Linked DNA regions of Homo sapiens. The protein of the gene in region 1 interacts with the protein of each later gene in a pairwise test. Each region holds a gene or a part of one and is shown in the gene's direction. Other genes may lie near its edges. The genes, in order: PSMA6, SMCO3, C19orf47 and BRME1.

Evidence for each region.
Region 2: the proteins of PSMA6 (region 1) and SMCO3 interact in binary tests that used the Homo sapiens proteins (3 or more experiments, as listed by UniProt).
Region 3: the proteins of PSMA6 (region 1) and C19orf47 interact in binary tests that used the Homo sapiens proteins (3 or more experiments, as listed by UniProt).
Region 4: the proteins of PSMA6 (region 1) and BRME1 interact in binary tests that used the Homo sapiens proteins (3 or more experiments, as listed by UniProt).

What each region holds. Positions count from the first base shown.
Region 1 is NC_000014.9:35,295,361-35,302,383, forward strand, and holds part of PSMA6 (proteasome subunit alpha type-6), read left to right. Parts: intron 1-7,023. UniProt on the Homo sapiens protein: Component of the 20S core proteasome complex involved in the proteolytic degradation of most intracellular proteins. This complex plays numerous essential roles within the cell by associating with different regulatory particles.
Region 2 is NC_000012.12:14,811,167-14,818,914, reverse strand, and holds the start of SMCO3 (single-pass membrane and coiled-coil domain-containing protein 3), read left to right. Parts: upstream 1-4,732; 5' UTR 4,733-4,789; intron 4,790-7,522; exon of another isoform or gene 7,523-7,748.
Region 3 is NC_000019.10:40,345,388-40,353,057, reverse strand, and holds the start of C19orf47 (uncharacterized protein C19orf47), read left to right. Parts: upstream 1-4,660; 5' UTR 4,661-4,734; intron 4,735-4,768; exon of another isoform or gene 4,769-5,869; intron 5,870-7,670.
Region 4 is NC_000019.10:13,889,107-13,896,129, reverse strand, and holds part of BRME1 (break repair meiotic recombinase recruitment factor 1), read left to right. Parts: intron 1-583; coding exon 584-758; intron 759-2,906; coding exon 2,907-2,988; intron 2,989-3,239; coding exon 3,240-3,344; coding exon of another isoform or gene 3,345-3,356; exon of another isoform or gene 3,357-5,011; intron 5,012-5,667; coding exon 5,668-6,942; intron 6,943-7,023. UniProt on the Homo sapiens protein: Meiotic recombination factor component of recombination bridges involved in meiotic double-strand break repair.

The sequences.
Region 1 (7,023 bases):
CAATCATAATTATAAACATACTTTATAATTATTAATAACATATTATTGGCAGTGTTTGCTCCCAGGGAGTGGAGAGAAAGACTTTTTCTTTTTTTTTTTTTTCCCTTTGAGACAGAGTTGCGCTCTTGTTGCCCAGGCTGGAGTGCAATGGCCGTGATCTCAGCTCACTGAAACCTCCACCTCCCAGGTTCAAGCGATTCTCCTGCCTCAGCCTCCCAAGTAGCTGGGATTACAGACATGTGCCACCACTCCTGGCTAATTTTGCAGTTTTAATAGAGATGGGGTTTCACCATGTTGGTCTGGCTGGTCTTGAACTCCTGACTTCAGGTGATCCACCCACCTCGGCCTCCCAAAGTGCTGGGATTACAGGCATGAGCCATTGCGCTCGGCCTGAAATATTTCTCTTAATGTACATATGCAGGTTGTATGTGTGTGCATGTATTCATTTGTTAAAAATTGTAGAACACCTAGCTTTGTAATCTATTTTCAGGAATTGCCCAAGTTACTAGAGGGAGGAGGTGCATTGTAGGGGGAATGGGACTGAGGCCCTAGTTGGCCAAATTCAGCCTGGCTACTTGTAGGCCCTTCTCTTCTGTTTGCTGATCCTTTGCTGGATAGGTCTGGCAAAGGAGAAGAGGAGTGGTCATTTGGATTTGCTTGACAGGTGTATGTGAGCACTGCCTGGTTGCTACAAAGAAGGGAGCGTGCTGATAGGGAACTAGAAAGAAATGGACTGGTGGAGACATACTGAAAATAAAATGTAGAAGTGTCATTGTGTATTGAAGCCAGAATTCCTGAGTTCAAGTCCTTACTGCATACCAACTCTAAGAACTTTTTATCTGTAAAATAAAGATAATAACCACCTACCTTATAGGGCTTTAAGGATTTAATTAGTTAATAAATGTAAAGCATTTAAAACATTGCCCGGTATATATAGTAAGCACTCAATGTTTTCTGGGTGTTTGTTTGTTTGTTTGTTTGTTTGTTTTTGAGACAGTCTCACTTGGTCGCCCAGGCTAGAGTGCAATGGCGTGATCTCAGCTCACTGCAACCTCTGCCTTCTGGGTTCAAGTGATTCTCCTGCCTCAGCCTCCCGAGTAGCTGGGATTACAGGCGCCTGCCACCATGCCCGGCTAGTTTTTGTATTTTTTGTAGAAACAGGGTTTCACTATGTTGGCCAGGTTGGTCTTGAACTCCTGACCTCATGATCTGCCCACCTCGGCCTCCCAAAGTTCTGGGATTACAAGCGTGAGCCACCATGCCCCGCCTTCAATTAGTATTTTCTGTAGGGGATACTGTCAAGAAGAAACAAATGGCTGATGTAAATGGAGTCAGAAATTTCACAAATGACTGAGAAGTACTTACCATTTGCCTCTTTTGCAATTTAAAAAATATTCTTATTTCAAAGCAGTATTTCTCAACCCAGGCTTCTCATGCCCTCTTTGAATCTGATTTGAAATTCAATGCATGTGTGTGCATGCATACACATACATACATGTGCATATCTACATAAATACATATATAACTACACAGAAAAAGTGATGGGATCAAATACTGCTGTATTTTCAAACCTCATATTCCCCCTCTCTTTCCCCCTCCCCCAGTGCCAAGATTTCTAATGACCCCACCCCCTTGAGGAATCACTGTTCTAAAGAGTAAAAGGTTAGGAGGCACTTTATAGTGAACCACACATCTCAATTATGTAGCCTACAAGTTTAGGGAAAAGCAAATAAGTAGCTTCAAAAAAATCTTAACAAAGTTTTTTTTTTTTTTTTTTTTTTTTTTTGCCACACAGCATTGAAATTGAATATGAATATACTTTCTTTGTCCCAGTAGAACATCCCGTTTTATTTTTATTTTTATTTTTTTGGGGGGGATTGAGTCTCGCTCTGTCACCCAGGCTGGAGTGCAGTGTTGCAATCTCTGCTCACTGCAAACTCCGCCTCCTGGGTTCACGCCGTTCTCCTGCCTCAGCCTCCTGAGTAGCTGGGACTGTAGGCGCCTGCCTCCGAGCCCAGCTAATTTTTTATATTTTTAGTAGAGACGGGGTTTCACCGTGTTAGCCAGGATGGTCTCAGTCTCCTGACCTCGTGATCCGCCTGCCTCGGCCTCCCAAAGTGCTGGGATTACAGGCGTGAGCCACCGTGAGGCCTGTTTTTTAATAACTCATAGAATATGTATCTCTCAATTCATTTTTATTTTTCAAGCCCACGTTTATATGGGAGAAAATCATATTTACATCCCGAAACTCTACAGCATTCTAAACAAAATTATGGGTGGAAAAAGTCTTGAGTTACATTTCTAATAATTGGTAGGACCTCAGAATCACCTGTAAATGCTTTGCAACACCTGATGAGTGACATAAAGGGAATATATATCTCTGCTGTTGTTCTCACAGCCTGAGCTGTGTACAGTGTGAGCCATTGTCTTGCATCGTGTGCCTGTCCTGAACATTTTGCCACCGTGCCTTTTATGTTTAGCCACTGTATTTTTCTAGTATACAAATGAATCCCAGAGAAATTGAGGAAGTGTTGGGGAAAATGGTAGGGAAGGAAACAAAGCAAATAAGATATTACTATGGAAATGACATTTCTACATACAAAATAACTGTTGATACCATTTTGTTTGAGCAAGGAAGCAATTTACTTCCTAACCTAATGGTTTGTTGTTGGGTTCAACCATGAAACTGCTGGTCTTTGACTAATTTTTAACCTGTAAAAATGGCAGTTTCGTGTGGTTCAATCTAATACTTAGGTATTTTACTGTGTATTTAAGATTTAGAAAATTGGGGGCTTGGAGTCGAGTTTAATGCATTATAATTTTTCCCATTTAAAAACTGGAAAATGGGGCCGGACACAGTGGCTCACACCTGTAATCCCAGCACTTTGGGAGGCCGAGGCAGGTGGATAACCTAAGTTTAGGTGTTCAAGACCAGCCTGGCCCACATGGTGAAACCCTATCTGTACTAAAAATACAAAAATTAGCTGGGTGTGGTGGCGTGCCCCTGTAGACCCAGCTACTAGGGAGGCTGAGACAGGAGAATTGCTTGAGCCCGGGAGGTGGAGGTTGTAGTGAGCTGAGATCGCACTGCTGCACTCTAGCCTGGGCAACAAAGTGAGACTCCATCTCAAAAAAAGAAAAAAAAAAGGAAAAGGAACTATGACTTATTATTTTCTTGCATAATCTTGGACATTCAAGAATAGTTTACTCAGTTTTAGAGTTCTGTAAGTTTCCAAAATTTTAGCCCAAACCAAAGTCTTTGATCATGTAGTGTTTAAGTACTGTTGCCAACGTTTGAATCCTGACTTTAAAAAATAAATATCATTTTAAAATGCTGCCCATAAACTATTATTTTTATCTTTATTTCTTTATTATTATTATTATTATTTTGGAGACAGAGTTTCACTCGGTTGCCCAGGCTGGAGTACAGTGGTGCAATCTCAGATCACTATAACTTCCGCCTCCCAGGTTAACTCAATTATCCTGCCTCAGTCTCCTGAGTAGCTGGGATTACAGGCGCGCACCACCATACCTGGCTAATTTTTGCATTTTTAGTACAGACAGAGTTTCACCATGTTGGCCAGGCTGGTCTCAAACTCCTGACCTCAAGTGATCCACCTGCCTCGGCCTCCCGAAGTACTGGTATTATAGGCGTGAGTCACTGCGTCCAGCTATTTATTTTTTGAGACAGGGTCTCACTCTGTCGCCCAGGCTGGAGTGCAGTGGTGTAATCATAGCTCACTGTAGCCTCAAACTCTTGCACTCAAGAAATTCTCCTGCCTCAGCTTCTCAAGTAGCTGGGAGTACAGGTATACACCACCATGCTCAGATAACTTTTTATTTTTAGTAGAGATGACATCTTGGTGTTTCCCAGGCTGGTCTTGAACTCCTGGGCTCAACTGATCCTCCTGCCTCCATTCCCAAAGTGCTGGGATTATAGGTGTGAGCCGCCGCAGTGCCCAGCCTCTTTTTTTTTTTTTGAGATGGAGTCTCACCCTGTCACCCAGACTGGAGTGTAGTGGTGCAATCTCGGCTTGCTGCGACCTCTGTCTCCTGGGTTCAAGCGATTCTCCTGCCTCAGCACCCCAATAGCTGGGATTACAGGCGCCTGCCACCACACCTGGCTAATTTTTGTATTTTTAATAGAGGCAGTGTTTCACTATGTTGGTTAGGCTGGTCTTGAACTCCTGACCTCAAGTGATCCACCCGCCTCGGCCTCCCAAAGTGCTGGGATTACAGGCGTGAGCCACCATGCCCAGCCTCTTTTTTCTTAATTGGCCTTCATATACCATAGGTTGTCCGTATCTGCTCTAAACCATGATACTACTGTTTACCCTGCCAGTGTTTCTTTAAAAGATACTCTTTAGGTGTTGAGTTGTCTAAATTCTTTGCTCTGGCAGTTTCCATTTTTCTGGAAATTATTATAAAACATTTCATGGTGGTAGTGTTAAAATGGGGATTCATTTATACAAGCCTTTACTGAAATTACAGTGCAGCTTGATGAGTACTAAATAGTATAAAAAAGGTATTACAGGAAGTGACTAACTGCCTAGGAGAGCCGGGAAAGGCTTCTCAGAGATGAATTGGCCCAGATGAAGATTAAATAAGGAAATTTGGGGGACCAGTGCATAGATCAGTCAGTGTGAATGCAGTATAGACAGTAACAACTGAAAGAGTAAATTATAGCAATATTTTGAAGGGGCTTGAGTACCATGCTAGAGTTTGGACTTTTTTCCATGTGTTTTGAACAGAGCTAGCAGGGGTCTTTAAGAATGGCGAGGTAATTAAGTAAAATAATAGGAGAGTTGAGTGTAGAAATGGGATTAGAAAGGGACTGATGGTTCACACCTGGAATTCCAACACTTTGGGAGGCTAAGGCAGGAGGATTGCTTGAGGCCAGGAGTTCGAAACTAGCCTGGACAAAATAACAAGACCTTGTCTCTGCAGAATATATAAAATGAAATTAGCCAGGTGTGGTAGTACACACCTGTTGTCCCACATACTCTGGAGGCTGAGGTAGGAGGATTGCTTGAGCCGAAAGTTTCAGGTTGCAGTGAGCTACGATCACACCACTGCACTCCAGCCTAGACAACAGAGTGAGACCTTGTCTCAGAAAAGAAAATAAAAAGGGGACTGGTGGCAGGAAGAACAATTAGAAGAGGTTTGCTCAGTATCAGTAATTCATATAAACCCTAATGAGTGAATTAAGGTAATAAGAGAGAAAGGGTGGAGGGGTCTCTTGAGCTTATTTTTCACATTTTTATTATAGAATACTTTAGACAAATGTAGATAGACTAGTACAGTGACCTTCATGTACCCATCACACAGCTTCATCTGATGTCAATATTTTGTCAGTCTTGTTTTCTCCCTTTCCCACGCACTTTCCCCGCTCTTCTAGAGTACGTTAAAGCAAATCCTAGGTATAAGAATGGACATTTCTTGGGAAAGGGCAGGAGGTTAGAGTCAAGAGTGATAACCCAGGTTTGTAGCTTGAAAAATTGAGTGGTTAGTAATACAATTATGAAATAAGGACTGTAAGAAAAGCAGGTTTATAAAGAGGAAGAGTTTATTTTTAGACATGTCTGTGGCTAATAGGCATAGGTATTTGAAGAAATAGACATTTGTAATTATAAGTCCAGAGCTAGAGATGACAGATTAGTAGTGATTATCTAGGTTATAGCTAAATCTCTGGTTTAGGGTAAAATCATCCAGGGATGGAGAAAATAATAGAATTCTGGGAAATACCAGTATTTCAGGAGCTGGCTGAAGAGATGAAAGCAGTGAAGAAGATTGAGAAGGGAAGTTCAGAGAAGTAGGAGAGGAAGAGTAGGAATGATATTCTTAACAAAGAACTTTAAATTTGGCTGAGCGCAGTGGTTCACACCTATAATCCCAGCACTTTGGGAGGCCGAGGCGGGTGGATCACTTGAGGTCAGGAGTTTGAGACCAGCCTGGCCAACATGGTAAAACCCCGTCTCTACTAAAAATACAGAAAAACTAGCTGGGTGTGGTGGTGTGTGCCTGTAATCCCAGCTACTCAGGAAGCTGAGGCAGGAGAATCGCTTGAACCTGGGAGGCAGAGGTTGCGGCGAGCCAAGATTGCTCCACTGCACACCAGCCTGAGTGACAGAGTGAGACTCCATCTCAAAAAAAAAAAAACTTTAAAATCCAGTTGCTCAGTTACACTAGCCACATTTTATGTGCTCAATAGCCACATATGACTAGTGACTATCATATTGGACATTGCAAATATAGAACATTGCCAGCATCACAGAAATTTCTGTTGGACAGCACTGGTCTATATAAAGAACGAGGGCCCCCTTAATGAATCCTGGCAAATTCACAGGTGCATTCTCTGTTGAGAAGCATTTTTTATATGTAAAATGTTTTTTATTTTGTGAGACAAAAGTTTATGTGGTAGGGAAGATACTCTTTTGTGGCTTTTACCTTTTGCATTATTTAAGCAATAAGCATGTATTCATTTATTTAGTTCAGGGATGACAGACACAAATGCTTACACAGACCAGATAAGTAATGCCAGTGAGTAAAACAGGCTGAGTGAAAGATAACAGGAAATGGTGGGACCTGTGGAAAACTGCAAAACACCTGCTCAGCTTAGGTGATTTTTTTTTTCTTTGTGGCCAGTTGCTATGTGGGATTGAAGATCAAGTGTTACTAGAATTTTTTTTTTTCTAGGAAAAAATCACATCTCTAAAGACCCTCTGCCTGCTTTTGCCATATAAGGTAACATTCACAGGTTCCAGGGACTAGGACATAGATATATTTTGGGGATGCATTTACCAACCTACCAGAGGGTTAATGATTTTATTGGCTCAAAGAACCAGTTTTTGACTTAGCTGGTTTTTCTCTTGTTGTCTGTTACTGTTTCTTGATTTCTGGCCATGTTGTCCAGGCTGGTCTTAAACTTCTGGGCTCAAGCGATCCTCCCCATTCAGCCTCCCAAAGCAGTGGGATTACAAGCATGAGCCATCACACACAGCCAGAATCACTACAAATTTAGTG
Region 2 (7,748 bases), on another chromosome or scaffold:
TCTAATATTAAGATATACCACAGTAATTGAGACAGTGTAGTATTGGTGATATGTAGACCAACCTAACAGAACAGGAAGTCTAGAAAAAGACCCACAAATGTGGTCAATTGATTGTTTTTGTTGTTGTTGTTTTGAGACAGAGTCTTGCTCTGTCACCAGGCTGGCGTGCAGTGACGCAATCTCAGCTCACTGCAACCTCCGCCCCCAACCAGATTCAAGCCATTCCCCTGCCTCAGCCTCCCAAGTAGCTGGGAGTACAGGCACACACCACCATGTCCAGCTAAATTTTTTGTATTTTAGTAGAGAAGAGGTTTCACCAAGTTGGCCAGGATGGTCTCCATCTCCTGACCTCATGATCTGCCTGCCTCAGCCTCCCAAAGTGCTGGGATTACAGGCATAAGCCACTGTGCCTGGCCGGTCAACTGATTTTTAACAAAGATGCAAAGGCAATTTAACATAGAAAGTTTAGGTGTTTTCACCCTAGAAGAAAACCTAGGCAATACCATTCAGGACATAGGCATGGGCAAAGACTTCATGACAAAAATGCCAAAAGCAATTGCAACAAAAGCCAAAATTGACAAATGGAATCTAATTAAACTAAAGAGCTTCTGCGCAGCAACAGAAATTATCATCAGAGTGAACAGGCAACTTACAGAATGAAAGAAATTTTTTGCAATCTACCTACATGATAAAGGTCTAATATCTAGAATTTACAAGGAACTTAAACAAATTTACAACCCTATCAAAAAATGGGCAAAGGATATGAACAGACAGTTCTCAAAAGAAGATCTTTACACGACCAACAAATGTATAAAAAAGAAAGCTCAACAACACAGATCATCAGAGAAATGCAAATCAAAACCACAGTGAGATACCATCTCATGCCAGTCAGAATGGAGATTATTAAAAAGTCAGGAAACAACAGATGCTTGCAAGGGTGTGGAGAAATAGGAATGCTTTTACCCTGTTAGTGGGAATGTAAATTAGTTCAATCATTGTGGAAGATAGTATGGCAATTCCTCAAGGATATAGAACCAGAAATACTATTTGACCCATCAATCCCATTATTGGGTATATACCCAAAGGATTATAAATCATGCTACTATGAAGACACATGCACATGTATGTTTATTGCAGCACTATTTACAACAGCAAAGACATGGAACCAACCCAAATGCCCATCAATGATAGACTGCATAAAGAAAATGTGTTACATATACACCATGGAATACCATGCAGCCATAAAAAGGAATGAGATCATGTCCTTTGCAGGGACATGGATGAAGCCAGAAGCCATCATCCTCAGCAAACTAACACAGGAACAGAAAACCAAACACCACGTGTTCTCACTCATAAGTGGGAGTTGAACAATAAGAACACATGAACACAGAGAAGGGAACAACACACACCAGGGCCAGTTGAGGAGTGGGGGGCGAGGGGAGGGAACTTAAAGGATGGGTCAATAGGTGCAGCAAACCACCATGGCACATGTATACCTGTGTAACAAACCTGCACATTCTGCACATGTATCCTCCCTTTTGTTTTGGAAGAAATAAATAAAAACAAAAAACAAAGAAAGAACAACAACAAAAAAAGAAAGTTTAGGGTTTTTCAATGAATGGTGCTGGAAAAGCCTGATACCCATATGCAAAAACATAAACCTTGATTTTATGTCATACCATACACATACATAAATTAACTCAAAATGGGACATGAAAAATATAAAACCATAAAACAGAAGAAAATACAGAAGAAAATCTTGTAACTTTTGGTTAGCTGATTAGTCCTTTGATATGTATGACACCAAAAGCATATCCATTAAAGAAAAAACGATAAATTGGCCGGGCATGGTGGCTCATATATTCTTAGATTTATATTTAAGTATTTTATTTTAGTGTAATCCCAACACTTTGGGAGACTGAGGTAGGCAGATCACTTAAGGCCAGGAGTTGGAGACCAGCCTGCCCAACATGGCAAAACCCCGTCTCTACTAAAAAATACAAAAATTAGCTGGGTGTGGCACACGCCTGTAATCCCAGCTACTCGGGAGGCTGAGGGAGGAGAATTGCTTGAACCTGGGAGGCGGAGGATGCAGTGAGCCAAGATGGCACCACTGCACTCCAGCCTGGGTGACAGAGTGAGACTCTGTCTCAAAAAAAAAAAAAAAAGAGAAAATATAAAGACCTGATCAGCAATTTCAAATGCTGCAAGTATGATAAACACTGTAAATTATTTCTTATGTTTAGTCATTACAATGTCATTGACAATGCTAGAAAAGCAATTTTGCAAGAGGCAGGAATATGTACAGAAGCTAGATTATAAATACTGGAAAATTAATGGAGAAAATGAAGTAGAGGCAATGCATGTACACTACCAAACTGGGAAGTCTAACTGTGAAGAAGAAAGATAAAGGAGGCTATTGGGTCAAAAAGGTGATTATTTTTAGGTTTGCTTGATTTTTTTTTAAGTGCAGCATTCATAAGTGCTGGCAAATTGTTGAAACAATCGTAATTGAATCGGGCAGTTTATTCAGGGTCATGTAATATATGGTTTTTGAGCAGAGATTTTAGGAAAAGAAGGGGATGAGCTTTAGGATAAAAGGGAAAATAAAGCATTCTAAATAAAAGACGATCAAGTGAGAGCTACATGCAGATAAGTTTGGAGATATTATTGCTTTCACTCTCATTTCCCACCACTGTCAATCCAGCAGTGAAACTTGTCAAATCAGCCTTCCTGATTCCCTAAAACCACCCTGACTCCAAGATCTACACTAAGAAAATGTGCCTCCTTCCTAAGGTTCAGTTCTGACTATTGACTTGACGTTAATACTGGCTTTAGTAGTCAAGAAAGATTTAAGAAGTTCAAGTTTTCAACCTGAGAAACTGATTGCAGAAAAAAGAAGTTCAAGTTGATTAGGGGGCTCAGTATGAAGTCAATATTGCTTCTAGTTTTTCTCTGATAATTATTTTGCATTGTTACTGTTTATCCTTAATTTTGGCAACTCCACTTAGGCTGCTATGTGGTAGGAGAGAAAGGAGTGGATGAGTAGGCAATAAATGTTAAGAAGGGTAGAAATAGGAGAGAAACAAACACCTTAGGAACAAGTGGGTTAAATGGTACTCTTCAACAATAGCCTCTTCGGAAACAAAATGCAACTGTTTTAAGACAGGGTAAAAGACAGACATATTTTGTCCACATACTGTAGGCAATGGGGTTGGTAACTTATGCTTTATTGTCCATACCTACTAATCAAGTTTACATAATGTACCCTTCCTGAAATCCAAATCTCCAAATATTACACCATAATTAAAAGGATTTTTTAATGGTTCATTATTATCTACAGAATGAAATACAATTTCCTAGCATGACATCTAAGGCTATCTACAAACTATTTTCAATTTTCCATGACTTACCTTCCCTTAACTGCTCCCACTTACACCCTGTATCACCAGCAGGTTGGTTTTTGTTCCCTGAAAATGTTCTACAATTTTTGGTTCAGCTCCTTTGCTCTCAGTGTTCCCTCTATCTGTATTATTTCCTCTATACCACCATCCTCCCCAAACATCTATTAAAATCCTACTTAACATCCATACCTAGTTCAGATACACTGGCCACACATCCGTACGTGGTGGGGCCCTGGATACATCAAGGGCAAGATGATCCACTGGGACAAAAGTAGAAAAGTGACCCCACTTAGCCCTTCTTTAGAATCACAGGGCAGCATCTTTAGATTTTAAAGTTTCCTGTCTGCCTGTCTGGCATTTTGATTCTGTATCCTGTACCCACCCATTCTCCTCTCCCCTCCACCAGGAGATACTGTTGTTAATATATGAATAGCTACCGTTTCATAAGATTTTGCCACATATCAGCCACTATGCCAATTACTTTATAAACACTATCCCATTTAATCCATAAATTATTAACTAATACTCATATTACACCAATGGGAAAACTCAGGCTAAGTGACTTTCTTAGGATTACATGACTAGTAAGTGGTACTTGGAGTACACAAAACCAGGACTGTCTGAGTGTAAAGCCTGCTGTCTTTCACTAAGTTACACTGGGGCTGAGTGATTTCCCTGCCACTCAGGTGTCTTTGCTGTGGAGGAATTAACGGGTCTGAAGACTGAAGCTGGGAAGAAGCAGCAGGGAAGACTGATCTGAGCTTTCAGGGAAAAGAGTGAAGTTGGACTTTAAGGTTTTTATATTGTCAAGACAATTTACAAACACAGGAAGAGAAAGAATGACAAAGAGGAGAACTCCTAGCTGGAAAGAAGAGAAAAAAAAATTGGATGCAAGTAACTGCATTTATATATCTTGAGAATTTAAATAATCAGCAACAGTTAGAGGTGCAAATGCAACAGAAGCTAAAAGAAACTTAGTATCTGGAATAGTTGACAAGATAAAACCCCAAAATCTGAGAGCTGCAATCAAAGAGCCATCTTCTCTACTAAATTGAATTAGCTCAGTTATATAGCGCTTCTCAACAATAAAAAGTCCATTAAAGAACAGAAATTTAAAAATAAGTTTTACACACTATTAGTCTTCCAGTTTATATAACTTAATACTGTATACTAAGTTTTTATTAATAGGAAATGAAGGAATTCTGAGGGCCAAGCCATGTAGAAATAGCCTATAAACCAGACAGGCAGAGGGACCCAGCAGAGACTAGCAAAGTCTGTAAGTCATCACATTCCATCAGAAATATCCAGATGAAACCAGATGAAAAAGCACTTTAACAATACTCCTAAACAACTGCTAGGACCACGGAACTCAGAAACACAGCAAGGTAAGCAACGTGGATATTTCTATTAGTATTGATATAATACTCTGTTTCTCAGTAGTAGGAGGAATTTGAATTAGCCCGTCAGTCTTGAATCCTAACCATAAATAAAATAAAGTAAAAAAACAGCTTTGTTATAAGAGGATCCCATGACATGTTCCTTGTGATTTGGAAGGAACCTTTCCTGGTGCCTTCTCTGAAGACAGCAGAGAAGGAAGAAAATTAACAATTTCTAGGACTGATTAAGTCAGAGTGGAAGAGAAGCAGTAAAGACATCAATTCTAAGAAGGATTAAGGATGAAATGATACCTGTGTGAATGTGTGAAGTTTACATGGATAGTAACATTTCCTTCTATGTCATTAATATTAATATAGGCACTCAGTACCTATCTATGAAAGAATGAATGTGGAATCTAATACTGGTTAATGTATAGTACTTATACTCCTTCATAAATTATGTTGTATCTAAATATCTCTGAGCATTTGCTGTGTGTCTCCAAACAGGCTGTTATCGTCTTGAGGGCAAGGAACATTGTCGTTTTCAAATGCCTCAAGGGACACAGTAGAGGCTTCACCAGTGAGCACTTGATAAATGCTGATGAATGACTTTAATATTCTTCTTTCTGGTCAGAAACATTTTTTAAATGAATTTATATCAGAAAGTATATCATCACATCATGATCAATTTTTGTTTTAATTAAAGGCCACAGATTTTTATTTGAATTAAAGGAGACTCAGAACTAGTTAGAAGCTGTTATTTTCTTCTGAAAAGCTCCTGATTTTACCTATACCCTATTTCCACACTCCCAGATAAGGAAACTGTGCATGATGGCAAAACCCTGTTTGGACAGTGAAGAAAAGTGACAGCAAGAAGAAATGTAAAACCTCAGAGAGCACTAACGACTAAACATCAGAGGTTTAGACAGGGTCACGTTTTTCTTTTTCTTTCTTTTTTATTTGTTATAAGAAAAGTTCAAACATACACAGAAGTAGAGACAATAATATAATAAACTCCCATGTACCCATAACTCAGCTTTAAAAATTATCAAAACAAGGCCAATCTTTTTTCCTCTATAACCCTACCCCACTATTCTTTCCAGATTATTTGTGAACAAATCTCTGAGACCATTTCATTTCATCTTAAATGTTTTCAGTATGTATTTCCAAATAGGCAAGAACTTCTCTTTTTGAAATTTAACCTTACTCTTCCCAAATCAACAATATTTAAACAGGACCATCTTTGACTGGGAAATATACCAGCACTATGCTCAGTATCTGGGTGACAGGATCATTCACAGTAAACCTCAGCAACACACAGTATAGTCAGGGAACAAACCTGTGTATGTACCTCCTGAATCTAAAATAAAAATTGTAAAAATTTTATAGCAGGATACCCAGTATCCTGCTATAAAAATTTATTTGGGGTAGCACAGTAAAAGCTTTTGGAATGCAATTTACGATACATATCAAAAGTAATAAAAATTTAATTCCCATTACTTATGCCACTAATTATGTAATTCTTCTAGGTACTTATGCTGAGGAAATAATCCAGATAATGGAGGAAAAAAAATCTGTGGGTATCAAAATGCTCATTAGAATATTAGTGATAGTGAAACAATTTTAGATTTATTGAACCAGGGTAAAGACAGGGAATAGTATACGTAACCAATAAAATTTTTTTTTTTTTTGAGACGGAGTCTCCCTCTGTCACCCAGGCCGGCGTGCAGTGGCACAATCTCGGCTCACTGCAAGCTCTGCCTCCCAGGCTCATGCCATTCTCCTGCCTCAGCCTCCCAAGTAGCTGGGACTACAGGCGCCCGCCACCGCGCCCGGCTAATTTTTTGTATTTTTAGTAGAGACGGGGTTTCACCGTGTTAGCCAGGATGGTTTCGATCTCCTGACCTCGTGATCCGCCCGCCTCGGCCTCCCAAAGTGCTCGGATTACAGGCGTGAGCCACCACGCCCGGCCAAATATTTTTAAAGCTATAAATAGGGGAAAGTGTTAAGTGAATAAAAGATGAATTTTATTTATACTATTATGATAACTTTGTGAAGATACTTATGCATATAAACAAATTTTGAAAAAGAATAACAAAAATCAAAAGTGAAATGGTAGGTTTATGGGTGTTTTTCCTCCTCTATTTAAAAAAGTGTATATGTTACTGGTAATAAGTATATATTTAAAAATCGTTTTACCAAACCGTTCACTTTTAATTTCTCCATAATGTACCATCTATCAAAGTATAAATCATATATTGCATTCTCCATGAAGCTTTCTCTAATCACCTTGATATTAATTTCTAAGTTCAACAGCACTTGACAGTCAACGCACTACTGTTATTCACGAAAGTACCCTGAAGAGTTGTATTTGAACATATGATGATCAGTACATTTTCATTTTGTAAGGTAGTTCCTTTTCTGAAAAACTAAAACAACTGTATGATGTCATTAAATAAAACTTAACTTTTAGACACAATTATCAGCATATTTCTACCATATCTTAGATGCCCTTTAATCTTAAATGTTGACTTCTCAATTCAAAAAAATTAACAAGGTTAGGTGCAGTAAGCATCCATCTCAAGCTAACCTTTGTCTCCATTTTCATTTCTTAAGGTGTGCTGACCAATGACATCAGCACTTTCAGATGTTTTTTGTCATTTTTTAATAAAATAACAAGTCAAAAATTTCCAAACTTTGTTTTAGCAACAGAACTCTCTCATCAAATAAAATTTTACCTACCCAGAGCCCAAATGTGTAGAGCAAGAGAAAGCACAGCTGCTCCAGTCCAGCAAAGGCCCAGGTGAAAAATGGGAGACCCAGAGACCAAGAGCTCCACCTGCTGTCTAGCAATTCCCAATGGGCTGCTCCAGGGCACTACAGAACCCATTTCATGGATAACTACAAGAAAATATTCAAATAATAGCACAAACTCTGTACAAAAGTGGATGGTAATTCCCCAAGTGGA
Region 3 (7,670 bases), on another chromosome or scaffold:
GACCCTGCAGCTTGAGGGAGGCGTGAGCCTGCAAAAGTGCAGGGTGTGGAGTGAGACAATGGGGCTTCTTGCATTCATTTTTGATTTTTTTTGAGACAGGGTCTCCTCGCTTTGTTGCCCAGGCTGGAATGCAGTGGTGGGAACACATCTCACTGCAGCCTGGAACTCCTGGGCTCAAGTGATCCTCTCGCCTCAGCCTCCTGAGTAGCTGGAACCACAGGTGTGTGCCACCATGCCCAGCTAGTTTTTTATTTTTTTGTAGAGTTGGGATCTCACCACATTGCCCAGGCTGCTATTGAACTGCTGGGCTCAAGTGATCTGCCTACCTCAACCTCTCAAAGTGCTGGGATTACAGGCATAAGCCACTGTGCCTGGCCTCAAAGCACTTAATATATTTGTTTTATTTTTTTAAATTGGACTTAATATATTTAATTTTCACAACAGTCCTCTTAAAAATCCCACTTAGGGAATTAAGGATCCAGAGAGGTGAAGTCACAGGTATAAAGAGAAATAGGATATGTGGTAAGCCTGGAACTGGACTTTGGTTAAAAAAAAAGAGAGAGGAAATGGAGCAAGGATTTGAACCCAAGCTGCCTCAAGCTTCCAGGGACAGATGCCACATGACAGCTGCCTCTCCTGTTGTTCATCATCTGTAGATCCCCTGCTGCCTGCCCCCCACCGTCTGGGACAGCAGCTGAACCCCGTGGTGGCGCCGGCCTCTCAAAAATTCCGTTAGCATTTCCCTAGCCTGCCCTCAAATTTTATGACTATTTATTTATTTATCTGAGATGGAGTCTTGCTCTGTTGCCCAGGCTGGAGTGAAGTGGTGTGATCTCGGCTCACTGCAACCTCTGCCTCCCGGGTTCAAGCGATTTTCCTGCCTCAGCCTCCTGAGTAGCTGGGATTACAGGCACAAGCCACAACGCCCAGCTAATTTTATATAATTTTGGTAGAGATGAGGTTTCACCATGTTGGTCAGGGTGGTTTCGAACTCCTGACCTCAAGTGATCCGCCCGCCTCAGCCTCCCAAAGTGCTGGGATTATAGGCGTGAACCACCACGCCCGGTCTCGATCTTTGACAGGGATATTTGAAACTTTCTCCCAACATAAAGGATATGTGAGTGCGGACTGAAGAAGATTCTGGCTCTCTTTCCAATAAGGCTGCCTCTCACTAGTCGATCCTGGGTAGAAGTTCTGGAGCTGCCACAGCTCAGGGTGATGGCTTCATGTCACACTGGACCGCATCCCTCCTCGGCTCCACATCCTCCTGTGGCACCCACCTCACTGGGAGTAAAAGCCAGCCTTCTGCATGGCTCACAAGGCCTTCCACGATGTGCCCCATCACCCCTCCAATGTCGTCTCTTGCCCCTCTCCTCTCTCACTGACCTCCTTGCTATTCCTTAAATATTCCAAGCTTGCTCCTACCGCAAGACTTTTGCTTTTGCTGTTCTCTTTGCCCAGCATGCTGTTCCCCCAGAGGGCCATGTCACTCTTTCTTTCTCTCTCTCTTTTTTTGAGACAGAATCTCGCTGTCGCCCAGGCTGGAGTGCAATGGCGCAATCTCAGTTCACTGCAACCTCCGCCTCCCTGGTTCAAGCGATTCTCCTGCCTCAGCCTCCTGAATAGCTGGGATTACAGGTGTCTGCCACTATGCCTGCCTAATTTTTTGTAATTTTAGTAGAGACGAGGTTTCACCATGTTAGTCAGGCTGGTCTCGAACTCCTGACCTCAGGTGATCTGCCAGCCTTGGCCTCCCAAAGTGCTGGGATTATAGGCATGAGCCACTACGCCTGGCCGTTTTTTTGTTTTGTTTTGTTTTTTTGTTTTGAGACAGGGTCTCCGTCTGTTGCCCAGGCTGGAGTGTATTGGCAAAATCATGGCTCACTGCAGCCTCGAACTCCCAGGCTCAAGCGATCCCCCCACCTCTCAGCCTCCCAAGTAGCTGGGACCACAGGCGCACACCACCATACCTGGCTAATTTTTGTAGAGATGGGGTTTCGCTATGTTGCCCAGGCTGATCTCAAACTCCTGAGCTCCAGCGATCCACCTTCCTCAGCCTCCCAAAGTGCTGTGATCACAGGCGTGAGCCACCGTGCCCAGCCCTACTCTCTCTTCTCCTTCAAGTATTTGTTTCAAATGTCACCTTCTCAGAAAGCTTTCCCTGACCACCCTATTTAAAACTATAACCTTGACCCCACATTCCCCATGCCCCTTCTAATACATCCAATAATCTACTTACCTATTTACCCATTGCCTCTTACCCCCACTAGAGTGTAGTACACAGTCCATAAGGCCAGATTTTTTTTTTTTTTTTGAGATGGGGTCTCACTCTGTCACCCAGGCTGGAGTGCAGTGGTGCGATCTCAACTCACTGCAGCCTCCGCCTCCTGGGTTCAAGCAATCCTCTCACCTCAGCCTCCCGAGTTGCTCAGATTTTAGGGGCGCGCCACCATGCCTGGCTAATTTTTGCATTTTTAGTAGAGATGGGGCTTCACCATGTTGTCCAGGCTGGTCTCAAACTCCTGGTCTCAGGTGATCCACCCACTTCACCTCCCAAAGTGCTTGGATTACAGGTGTGAGCCATTGCGCCAGGCCGAGATATTTTTGTCTGTATTGTTCATTGAGGTATCCCCAGTGTCTAGCAGTGTTGGGCACATATATAGTACATGCTTAAGAATTATGTGCAGAATGATTAATTTGTGTTTTCATTCCCATATTGCAGATGCAGTAACTGAGGCGCTGGGAGGTTAAGTTAGTTGCCCAAGATCATGCAGTTTTTTTTTTTTTTTTTTTTTTTGAGACGGAGTCTCGCTCTTGTTGCCCAGGCTACAGTGCAATGGCACGATCTAGGCTCACTGCAACCTCCGCCTCTCAGATTCGAACGATTCTCCTGTCTCAGCCTCCCGAGTAGCTGGGATTACAGGCATGTGCCACCATGCCTGGCTAATTTTGTATTTTTAATAGAGATGGGGTTTCTCCATGTTGGTCAGGCTGGTCTCGAACTTCCGACCTGAGGTGATCCGCCCGCCTCGGCCTCCCAAAGTGCTGGGATTACAGGCGTGAGCCACCGCGCCTGGCCTATTATTATTATTTTTTTTTGAGACGGAGTCTCGCTCTTGTTGCCCAGGCTGGAGTGCAATGGCGCGATCTCGGCTCACTGCAACCTCCACCTCCCCGGTTCAAGCCATTCTCCTGCCTCAGCCTCCCGAGTAGCTGGGATTATAGGCATGCACCACCACGCCCGGCTAATTTTGTATTTTTAGTAGAGACGGGGTTTCTCCATGTTGATCAGGCTGGTCTCGAACTCCCGACATCAGGTGATCCGCCCACCTTGGCCTCCTAAAGTGCTGGGATTACAGGCATGAGCCACCGCACCCGGCCGAGGGTGACATGGTTAATAACAATATTAGCCAAAAACACCATGTCAAGCTGAGCCTACCACAAGAATAAACTCACAGAATCGTCACACTCAGCCCTGATGTGGATGTCCCCGTGTGCATTTTGCAGATGAAGCTGGGATTGGAAAGGTGCCATAAGGCAGTCAAGGTATCCAGAGGTGTAGTGGTGGGGCTGGGATTCTGACACACCCCAGGTAATGGGCTGCAGTACCCCGTATGTTATGTGAGATGTGACACGGGGAAATGACGAAGACACGGAGGGAAGAAAAATAACTGTAAGGCTGGGTGGCTCCTTATGGGGAAAACTGGAAGCATGAGGAGTGGATGGTGACTGGTCAGAGGAACAGTGATGCCAAGGGAGGGACAAAGACACAAGGGGTAATGATGACGTAAGAGTTGCATTAGCGCGATTTAAGAAGAGCGATGGGGACAGTAGCCATGCGAAGGTGACTTGGGGGTATGATGAGGGTTTAAAGAGAAATGAGGATTTTATAAAGGAGAAATGGCAACAAAAGCAGGATGCAGGTAACATATGGCGATGACGAATTTAAAGGGAGCGATTACGACCTATGGTGGCAAAGAGGGCTTACAGGGAACGAAAGCGAGTTAAGGGCGTTGATGACAACAAGAGGAGTTGTGAGGATTTAAAGAGGGTGATGGCGACAGAAGGAGTTGTGAGGATTTAAGTGGGATGAGACAGAAGGAGAGGAATGGTGACATAAAGAGACCGAGGACGACATAAATTATAGCGTGGAAGACAACGCTATAATTATATATATTATATTCCATATATTATATTCCATATAATATATATTATATTCCATGCATTATAGCGTGGAAGACAACACGAGGAGGGTAGCCGAGGCGCCGCGCCCCCAGATCGCACAGTACCTGCACTCCACGTCTCCCACTCCGAGACCCAGCCCCACACGCACCTTCCAGGCTGTATCCCCGCCTGACGGCCCCTCCTAGCCGCGCGCAGGCGCACTACGGCTAGACTGCAGGCCGGCGGGGGCCAGGCATGCGCCTTTCTCATTGGCCGCGCCGCTTGCTAGCTTCGGGCGGAGGGGAGCGCCGGGCCGACGGTGGGCGGTCACGTGACGGTTACGACTGCACTCTCGCTGGTGTCGGTGGGCGGTCACGTGATGGTTATGGCCGCACTCTCGCTGGTGGCGGCCTGTTGGGGTAGAGCGGCCGCGGACGAGTCAGTTCAGCTTCCGGCGGTGAGAGGATGCTTCCGGGGCGGGCAGCCCGGGCCGGGGGAGGAGTGTCTGACAGTTGGCGCCGCCGGGAGGGAGGGCGGGCGGCGCGAGTGGGCGCGGGCCCGGTGGGCCAGGTGAGGCGCGGGCCGGGGGTGGTGGGACTGGGCCGGTTGCGGTAGGGACGGGTGGCGTCCGGGTGTCTGGACTCAGTTCGGGCTCCGTTGTACGGCTTCGGACTTACGATTTGTTTCTTTGAGCCTCAGTTTCCTCCCCTGTGGAATGGGGGTTAGAATCCGACTGTATCACCGGCTTTATAAATGGGAGTGAGAAGTCAGGTCGTGTACGTTGGATGCCTTAGCTCAGCGCCTCCGCATAACGCTCACTTCGTTACTATACTATTATTATTAGTATTGATGTTTGAGCGCTTAGTATGAAAAATTGTTGGGTTTGGAAGCCGTCGAATTTTGGTTCAAGTCCCGCTCCACTGTGCGGCAGTGGGGCCTGTGTCTTCGCTTCCTTGAACCCCGTTTTTTCTCATCTGTACAATGAGAGCAGATAGTCCCAATATCATAGGGTCGTCTTGAGGATTCTGATGAAATCTGTGTGTGTAAAGATTTTAAGCAGAGGGGCTGGCACAGTGAGAGCTCGTGGATTGGGACTATAATGATAATGATTCTGAGAGTCATTGGTGTAGCTGGGAATTCCAGGGAAGCTGGGGGAGAAAGCTCAGAGACAGCAATAGGAAAAACTTAGAATTGGAGCCGGGGAAATCGACATCCTGTCACTTACTATTTGACCAATTTTGCTGAGTCCTGAAGTACTAGTTTTTTTCTTTTTCTTGATAATGACTAGTGCATTTTTTTCCCCAGTAAGTTAATTTGAGAAGGCAAATTTGCATTGCTGTCTTCTTCTTTTTTTTTTCTTTGAGACGGAGTTTCGCTCTTGTTGCCCAGGCTGGAGTGCAATGGTGCAATTTCGTCTCACCGCAACCTCCGCTTCCTGGGTTCAAGGGATTCTCCTGCCTCAACCTTCCGAGTAGCTGGGATTACAGGCATGCGCCACCACGCCCGGCTAATTTTTTTTGTATTTTAGTAGAGACGGGGTTTCTGCATGTTGGTCAGGCTGGTCTCGAACTTCTGACTTCAGGTGATCTGCCCGCCTCTGCCTCCCAAAGTGCTGGGATTACAGGTGTGAGCCACCGTGCCCGGCGCATTGCTGTCTTCAATGGAAAACTAGCATTGCTGGCCATGAGAGGAAGGAAAAGTTCAGGTAAAATACAATGGAAACTGAACAGCCCATTACATTGTACACTGAAATGGAAAGATAATTGAAAAGGAATACTACGTATTCCCTTTGAATAGGGATACTGTTCAGAACCTGTACTGTGTGATTCCCTGTTGTCAGATCCCATGGACCCCCATTAAGTTGTCCTTATACTTGTTCCCAGCTCACACTTTGTATAAAACTAGCATTAAGTCAGTGACTGTCCCACTGTTTCCCTAGCTTACTGAAGATTTGTTTTATTTGATGCACACTTAACATCGCACTTAACCACCTGCCGTGCATCTTTGTTCTAAGGACTCTGTTTATTAACTCGTTTAATCCTTGTAACACCTTTAAGAATGGGTCCTTGGCTGGGCGTGGTGGCTCACGCCTGTAATCCTAGCACTTTGGGAGGCCGAGACGGGCGGATCACGAGGTCAGGAGATAGAGACCATCCTGGCTAACACGGTGAAACCCCGTCTCTACTAAAACTACAGAAAATTAGCCGGGCATGGTGGTGGGGGCCTGTAATCCCAGCTACTTGGGAGGCTGAGGCAGGATAATTGCTTGAACCTGGGAGGCAGAGGTTGCAGTGAGACGAGATCACGCCACTGCACTCCAGCCTGGGCGACAGAGTGGGACTTCATCTCAAAAAAAAAAAAGGGTCCTCTTTTTTTTTTTTTAAGATGGTGTTTTTTTATTTTTATTATTTATTTATTTATTTATTTATTTATTTATTTATTTATTTATTTGAGACAAGGTCTCGCTCTGTTGCCCAGGCTGGAGTGCAGTGGTGCGATCTTGGATCACTGCAACCTCTGCCTCCCGGGCTTAAGCAATTCTCCTGCCTCAGCCTCCTGAGTAGCTAGGATTACAGGTGCCCACCACCACGCCTGGCTAATTTTTGTATTTTTAGTAGAGAGGGGTTTCACTATGTTGGCCAGGCTGGTCTTGAATTCCTGACCTCAGGTTATCCACCTGCCTCAGCCTCCCAAGGTGCTGGCCAAGAATTGGTAATCTTACTTTTTTTTTTTTTTTTGAGATGGAGTCTCACTCTGTTGCCCAGGCTGGAGTGTAGTGGTACAGTTTCGGCTCACTGCAACCTCTGCCTCCTGGGTTCAAGTGATTCTCCTGCCTCAGCCTCCCGAGTAGCTGGGATTACAGGTGCCTGCCACCATGCCCAGCTAATTTTTTGTATTTTTAGTAGAGGCGGAGTTTCGCCATGTTGGCCAGGCTGGTCTCAAACTCCTGACCTTGTGATCCACTGCCTTGGCCTCCCAAAGCGTTGGGATTACAGGCATGAGCCACTGCGCCCAGCCACCTTTCCTTTTTTTTTTTTTTTTTTTGAGACTGAGTCTTGCTCTGTTGCCCAGGCTGGAGTGAAGTGGCGTAATCTTGGCTCACTGCAACCTCTCCCCCCCCCGCCCCGGGTTGAAGCGATTCTCCCACCTTAGCCTACTGAGTAGCTTGGATTACAGGCATACACCACCATGCCTGGCTAATTTTTGTATTTTTAGTAGAGATGGGGTTTCACCATATTGGCCAGGCTGGTCTCGAACTCCTGACCTCAGGTGATCCACCCGCCTCAGCCTCCCAAAGTGCTGTGATTACAGGCGTGAGCCACCACGCCCAGTTTTTTTTTTTTTTTTTTTTTTTTTAACAGTGACAGGGTCTCGCTATATTGCCCAGGCTGGCCTCAAAATCCTGGGCTCCAGAGATCCTCCTGCTTCGGCCTCCCAAAGTGCTGGGACTACAGGTGTGAGTTACTGTACCCGGCCTTACCATTCTTATTGTGCAGTTGAGGGAA
Region 4 (7,023 bases), on another chromosome or scaffold:
CCCGGCTAATTTTTGTATTTTCAGTAGAGACGGGGTTTTGCCATGTTGGCCAGGCTGGTCTTGAACTCCTGACCTTAGGTGATCCACCCGCCTCGGCCTCCCAAAGTGCTGGGATTATAGGCGTGAGCCACTGCGCTATATATACAAAGATGTCAATAAGCATCTTTAGCCTCTTAAATGCCAGAAGAAGACACATCGCAATTGCTTTCAGTGATGGGGAAGTTAGTGCAGAAATGCAAGGGGCCAGGACGTGGCCAAAGCATCACCTCTTCAGCACCCGGTGGCTGTGAGTCCCAGTTTTCCCAGGATGGCTATTTTGCAGATGTCTCAGCACATTAGAATGGTACATAATTTAGTCTTGTCTGCCCTTGGTGGTGTGCATTTATCCAGTCATGGATAATTTATTTATTGAGCACCAACAGTGTACAAGATGCTCTTACAGGCACTTGGGACCCCGCAGAGAGTGAAATGGATTCGGCCCCTTCTCGCGTGCAGCCTGGTTGTAGTGGGGGAGACCTGAGTTGTCAGCCATGAGCAGTGGCTGTATCCCCCACCCCTTCATCTTCCTCTGTCTCTAAAACAGGAGAGGGACTCTGTCCTCCAAAACCCCTAAAGAACCCAAGGCTAGGAGACTTCTATGGGGACCCCCAGAGTTCCATGTTGGGCTGTTTACATCACCCTGAGGAGCCAGAGGGCAAATTGGGACCTGTTCCCTCTACACAGCAGCACGGGGAGGAACCAGGAAAGGCCGTCTCCAGGTAGGTGGCTCTGAACATTCCGGCAGGTCTCCCCACTGACAGTCCACATAGCACAGCAGCTCAGCAGACAGCAATGCTTTGGGAAAGAGACCCACAACCTATCTAGTGCTGTGACCCACTCCCTCCCAGAGCTCAGGGCCCTCGGATCTCGCTTCTCCTAGCTTTCCTCGCTGGTAAGAAGGGTTGATGTTTTAGCCGGGCATGGTGGCTAATGCCTGTAATCCCAACACTTTGGGAGGCCGAGGGGGGAAGATCACTTGAGGTCACGAGTTTGAGACAAGACTGGCCAACACTGCAAAACCCCGTCTCTACTAAAAATACAAAAATTAGCTGGGTGTGGTGGCGCACCTGTAATCCCAGATACTCAGGAGGCTAAGGCAGGAGAATCGACTGAACCCAGGAGGCAGAGGTTGCAGTAAGCTGAGATCATGCCACTACGCTCCAGCCTGGGCAACAGCGAGACTCCATCTAAAAAAAGAAAAAAAAGTTTTAACTGTGGGCAAAGATAACATTGCATTTTTCAGGGTTACAGAACTCATATTCTGTCTGCTGGTCAAACCCATCCTTCTTCCACATTCCTCCTCTTCCTTAATCAAGAAGGGAACAAAGGAATTGTTGTTATGTGAGCTAACGACCAATAAAAAAAGAAAAGCAATCAGGGCTGAGTGCAGTGGCTCATGCCTATAATCCCAGCACACTGGGAGGCTGAGGCAAGAGGATCGCTTGAGCCCAGGAGTTCAAGAGGAGCCTGTGTAACATAACAAGGATGACCCCATATCTACAAGAAATAAAATAATTAGCCAAAACAAAACGATATACATATCCTTATTTATTTATTTATTTATTTGAGACAGGGTCTTTCTCTGTCACCCAGGCTGGAGTGCAGTGGCACAATCTCGGCTCACTGCAACCTCCACCTCCCGGGTTCAAGCGATTCTCCTGCCTCAGCCTCCTGAGTAGCTGGGATGAAAGGCGCCCGCCACCACACCCAACTAATTTTTGTATTTTTAGTAGAGACGGGGTTTCACCATGTTGGCCAGGCTGGTCTCGAACTCCTGACTTAAGGTGATCCGCCCGCCTCGGCCTCCCAAAGTGCTGGGATTACAGGCGTGAGCCACCACGCCTGGCCCTTATTTATTTAAATATAACCCTAAGTTTCACTAGTTTTTAAAGACACTATGTTTCTTGCATCCACAATTTCCTTTCCCTAGAATGTGCCGTGTCAGGGCTGGAGTGTCCGTCCAAATGAGAATATCCCTATTCCCAGTTCAGAAGGCAATTCCTGGGATTATAAATGTAACAAAGTCACCTGTTAAGGCAGTGTATTCTCCAGGTGGGACTCTGCACCCTCCTTGACAGTTAAATGTTCTCAGGTCACTGCTTCTCCATCCCCATCCCACTCTTTCAAAGCAGGTTTTCCAGGGCCTTCCATCTAGCAGACATTTTTTTTTTTTTGAGATAGGGTCTTGCTCTGTCACCCAGGCTGGAGTGCAGTGGCGTGATCATAGCTCATTGCAGCCTGAACTCCCCTGGCTCAGATGATCGTGACATTTCAGCCTCTCAAGTAGCTGGGGCCACAGGCACACATCACCACGTCCAGCTAATTTTTAAATTTTTTGTAGAAAAGGGGTCTCACTATGTTGCTCAGGCTGGTCTCAAACTCCTGGGCATCCACCCACCTCAGCTTCCCACAGTGCTGGGATTAAAGGGATGAGCCACCACGCCCAGCCTAGGAGACTCTTAGCACTGGTTTCCTGTTGGATTTTGTTTTGCGTTTGTCTCGATAGGTGAGTGACAACCTAGGAGGATTTCAGATCCCCCTCGTTTGTTTGTTTTTGACACAGAACCTTGTTCTCTCACCTAGGCTGGAATGCAGTAGCACAATCTTGGCTCACTGCAAACACCATCTCCTGAGTTCAAGCCATTCTGCCTCAGCCTCCCAAGTAGCTGGGATTACAGGCGTGCGCCACCACATCCAGCTAATTTTTGTATTTTTAGTAGAGATACGGTTTCACCATGTTCCCCAGGTTGGTCTCGAACTCCTGGCCTCGGTGATCTGCCCGCCTCAGCCGCCCAAAGTGCTGCAATTACAGGTGTGAGCCACCGCACCCGGGCAGATCTCCTTCAGTTTTATCTTTTCCTACATAGCTCCCCTGATGAGGAAACAGGATCTCCCTGCCGGCTCCTCCGTCAACCAGAAAAGGAGCCAGCTCCCCTTCCTCCTTCCCAGGTGAGCTCGTCCTGTGGCCTCGTGGATATAGAAGCACCACTGCCTCCCTTAAAGTTCCGGCTCTGTGTCTCCCTTCTTTGTCACCAATTGCTCACTCATGGTCTACAGGGGCTGGAGGGAATGTGCCCAGAGGGCAAGGGTGGAGTTCTCTCAAGGCTACAAGAAAGGAGCAGGTTTGGGGTTGCTTTTTTCCTAAGACCTCATTCCTCTCTTATCTTTATTGCTGCTTTGTTCTTGTATCCGGTTTACAGAACTCATTCGGGAGGTTTGTTCCCCAGTTTGCAAAATCCAGGAAGACAGTGACAAGAAAAGAAGAGATGAAGGATGAGGACCGTGGGAGTGGGGCCTTTAGCCTGGTAAGGCTCTAAAATCAGCCAGGCTGAGCCCAGCGCAGGTGCAGCCTCCTGGCCCAGCCTCGGCAGCCCCATTTAACCCTGGAGTTCTTTGGCAATGGTGAGGCCTGCACCTCTCCACCCACCGTTTTCAGTACATTGCGCTATGGATGTGTGTTGACTATGCAACAATTCTTTATTTTATTTTTTTTCTTTTTTTTGAGACAGAGTTTCACTCTTGTCACCCAGGCTGGAGTGCGATGGTGCCATCTTGGCACACTGCAACCTCTGCCCCACTGGGTTCAAGCAATTCTCCCGCCTCAGCCTCCCAAGTAGCTGGGATAACAGACGCCTGCCCACCGCGCCCAGCTAATTTTTGTATTTTTAGTAGAGACGGGGTTTTACCATGTTGGCCAGCCTGGTCTTGAACTCCTGACCTCAGGTGATCTGCCCGCCTCAGCCACCCAAAGTGCTGGGATTACAGGCATGAGCCACTGCGCACGGCCTTAGCACAATTTTTAAAAAAACACAAAATGGTACAGAGTGAATTTCCGGTGTTCTCTGTTTTAGCTTCACCGAGTGGTAACACCATGCATAACTATAGTCCATCACCAAAACTAGGCAATTGGCCAGGTGCAGTGGCTCATGCCTATGATCCCAACACTTTGGGAGACTTCCCTTGACCAGCCTGGGCAACATGGCAAGACTCTGTCTCTACAATAATTTTTTTTTTTTTTTGAGATGGAGTCTTGCTTATCGCCCAGGTTGGAGTGCAGTGGTGTGATCTCGGCTCACTGCAGCCTCCACCTCCTGGGTTCAAGTGATTTTCCTGCCTCAGCCTCCCCAGTAGCTGGGACTACAGGTGCACACCACCACACCTGGCTTATTTTTGTATTTTTATTAGAATAGGGGTTTCACCCTGTTGGCCAGGCTGGTCTCGAACTCCCAACTTCAAATGATCCGCCTGCCTCGGCCTCTCAAAGTGCTGGGATTACAGGCATGAGCCACTGCGTCCAGGCTACAATAATTGTTTTAAAACTTGGCCAGGTGCAGTGGCTCCCACCTGTAATCCCAGCACTTTGGGAGGCCGAGGCAGGAGGATCACTTGAGCCCAGGCATTCAAGACCAGCCTGGGCAACATGGCACAACGCCATCTCTACCAAAAAAACCACAAAATTTAGCCAGTTGTGGTGTGTACCTGTAGTCCCAGCTACTTAGGAGGCTGAGGTGGGAGGGTCGTCTGAATCTAGGAAGGTCAAAACTACAGTGAGCCGTGATCACACCACTGCACTCCAGCCTGGACGAAAGAGTGAGACCCTGTCTCAAAATTATGAAAAATAAATAATAAAAATAATAATAGCCGCTGGGCGCAGTGGCTCATGCCTTTAATCCCAGCACTTTGGGAGGCCGAGATGGGCAGATCACCTGAGGTCTGTAGTTTGAGACCAGCCTGGTCAACATGGAGAAACTCTGTCTCTACTAAGTATACAAAATTAGCCGGGCATGGTGGCGCGAGCCTGTAATCCCAGCTACTCGGGAGGCTGAGGCAGGAGAATTGCGTGAACCCGGGAGGTGGGGGTTGCAGTGAGCCAAGATCGCACCATTGCACTCCAGCCTGGGCAACAAGAGTGAAACTCTGTCTAATAATAATAATAATAATAATAATAATAATAAACAGGAAATTGACATTGGTGTGGTCTGAATGCCACCTTGATTTTCATATCCCTGATCTGATTGAGTACCTGGTGCTGGTGGAGAGAAGAGCTTGGTGGAAGGAGAGGTTTCTGTGCTTCCAGATCCCCCTCCAGTCGCCGGCCCTGGTACTGATGCCTATTTCCATGCATGATGGCCGGTGCCAATATCTGAGTCTTTGAACAGGGTGGTGACAACTATTAGATTGGTGCAAAAGTAAGTGCAGTTTTTGCCACTAATTTTTTTGTGTGTATGAGACAGAGTCTTACTCTGTCGTCCAGGCTGGAGTGCAGTCCTATCTCGGCTCACTGCAACCTCCGCCTCCCGGGTTCAAACAATTCTCCTGCCTCAGCCTCCTGAGTAGTTGGGACTACAGTCAACTGCCACCATGCCTGGCTAATTTTTGTATTTGTTGAGTAGAGATGGGGTTTCACCATTTTGGCCAGGCTGATCTTGAACTCCTGACCTCAAGTGATCCGCCCACCTCGGCCTCCCAAAGTGCTGGGATTACAGGCATGAGCCATCACGCCTGGCCAATTTTTGCCATTAAAAGTAATGACAAAACCCGCAATTACTTTTACACCAACCTAATAGAAAACTCTTCGGAGAACTTGGTTATCAAAGGCCCCGGGGCTGAGTCTTTTTCTGTCCACAGGAAACAATCGCAGAGTCCAGCGCCCAGAGTCCAGGATGCCAGCTGCTAGTGGAGACCCTGGGGGTCCCCCTCCAGGAGGCCACGGAGCTGGGGGACCCAACGCAGGCAGACAGTGCCCGCCCTGAGCAGAGCAGCCAGAGCCCTGTGCAGGCGGTGCCCGGCAGTGGGGATTCTCAGCCTGATGACCCTCCAGACAGGGGGACGGGGTTGTCCGCCTCACAGAGGGCCAGCCAAGACCACCTGTCAGAACAAGGGGCCGATGACAGCAAGCCTGAGACAGACAGGGTTCCAGGTGACGGTGGCCAAAAGGAACACCTACCAAGCATTGATTCTGAAGGGGAGAAGCCAGACAGAGGAGCCCCCCAGGAGGGAGGGGCCCAAAGGACAGCAGGGGCTGGCCTGCCTGGAGGGCCCCAGGAGGAGGGAGACGGTGTCCCCTGTACCCCAGCATCAGCTCCTACCTCAGGCCCTGCTCCAGGACTGGGCCCTGCCTCTTGGTGCCTGGAACCCGGGTCTGTGGCCCAGGGCTCCCCTGACCCCCAGCAGACCCCCAGCAGGATGGGTAGGGAAGGGGAAGGGACTCATAGCAGCCTGGGATGCTCCTCCCTCGGGATGGTTGTCATCGCAGACCTGAGCACAGACCCCACTGAGCTGGAAGAGAGGGCTCTGGAGGTGGCTGGGCCCGATGGGCAGGCCAGTGCCATATCACCTGCCTCTCCCAGGAGGAAGGCCGCTGATGGAGGCCACAGGAGGGCCTTGCCAGGCTGCACCTCGCTCACTGGGGAAACCACAGGAGAAAGTGGGGAGGCAGGGCAGGATGGCAAGCCCCCCGGCGATGTCCTAGTGGGCCCTACAGCCTCCCTGGCTCTGGCACCTGGGAGCGGAGAGTCCATGATGGGTGCTGGAGATTCCGGTCATGCATCCCCGGACACAGGTCCATGTGTCAATCAGAAGCAGGAGCCAGGTCCTGCTCAAGAGGAAGCCGAGTTAGGTGGCCAGAACCTCGAACGAGACCTCGAGGGGTTCCGTGTGTCCCCGCAAGCCTCTGTTGTGCTGGAACACAGAGAAATAGCAGACGACCCTCTCCAGGAGCCCGGGGCTCAGCAGGGCATTCCAGACACCACCTCAGAGCTGGCAGGGCAGCGAGACCACCTGCCTCATTCTGCAGACCAGGGCACCTGGGCAGACTCTTTAGCTGTGGAACTCGACTTCCTGCTGGACAGCCAGATACAGGATGCCCTGGACGCCTCTGACTTCGAAGCCCCACCTGAGCAGGTGAGAGCTGCCCTGAGTGACAGACATACCTGCCCAGGGCAGGCACCCAACCTCCACAAGCCCCCTCCTCACTCGGTGCAG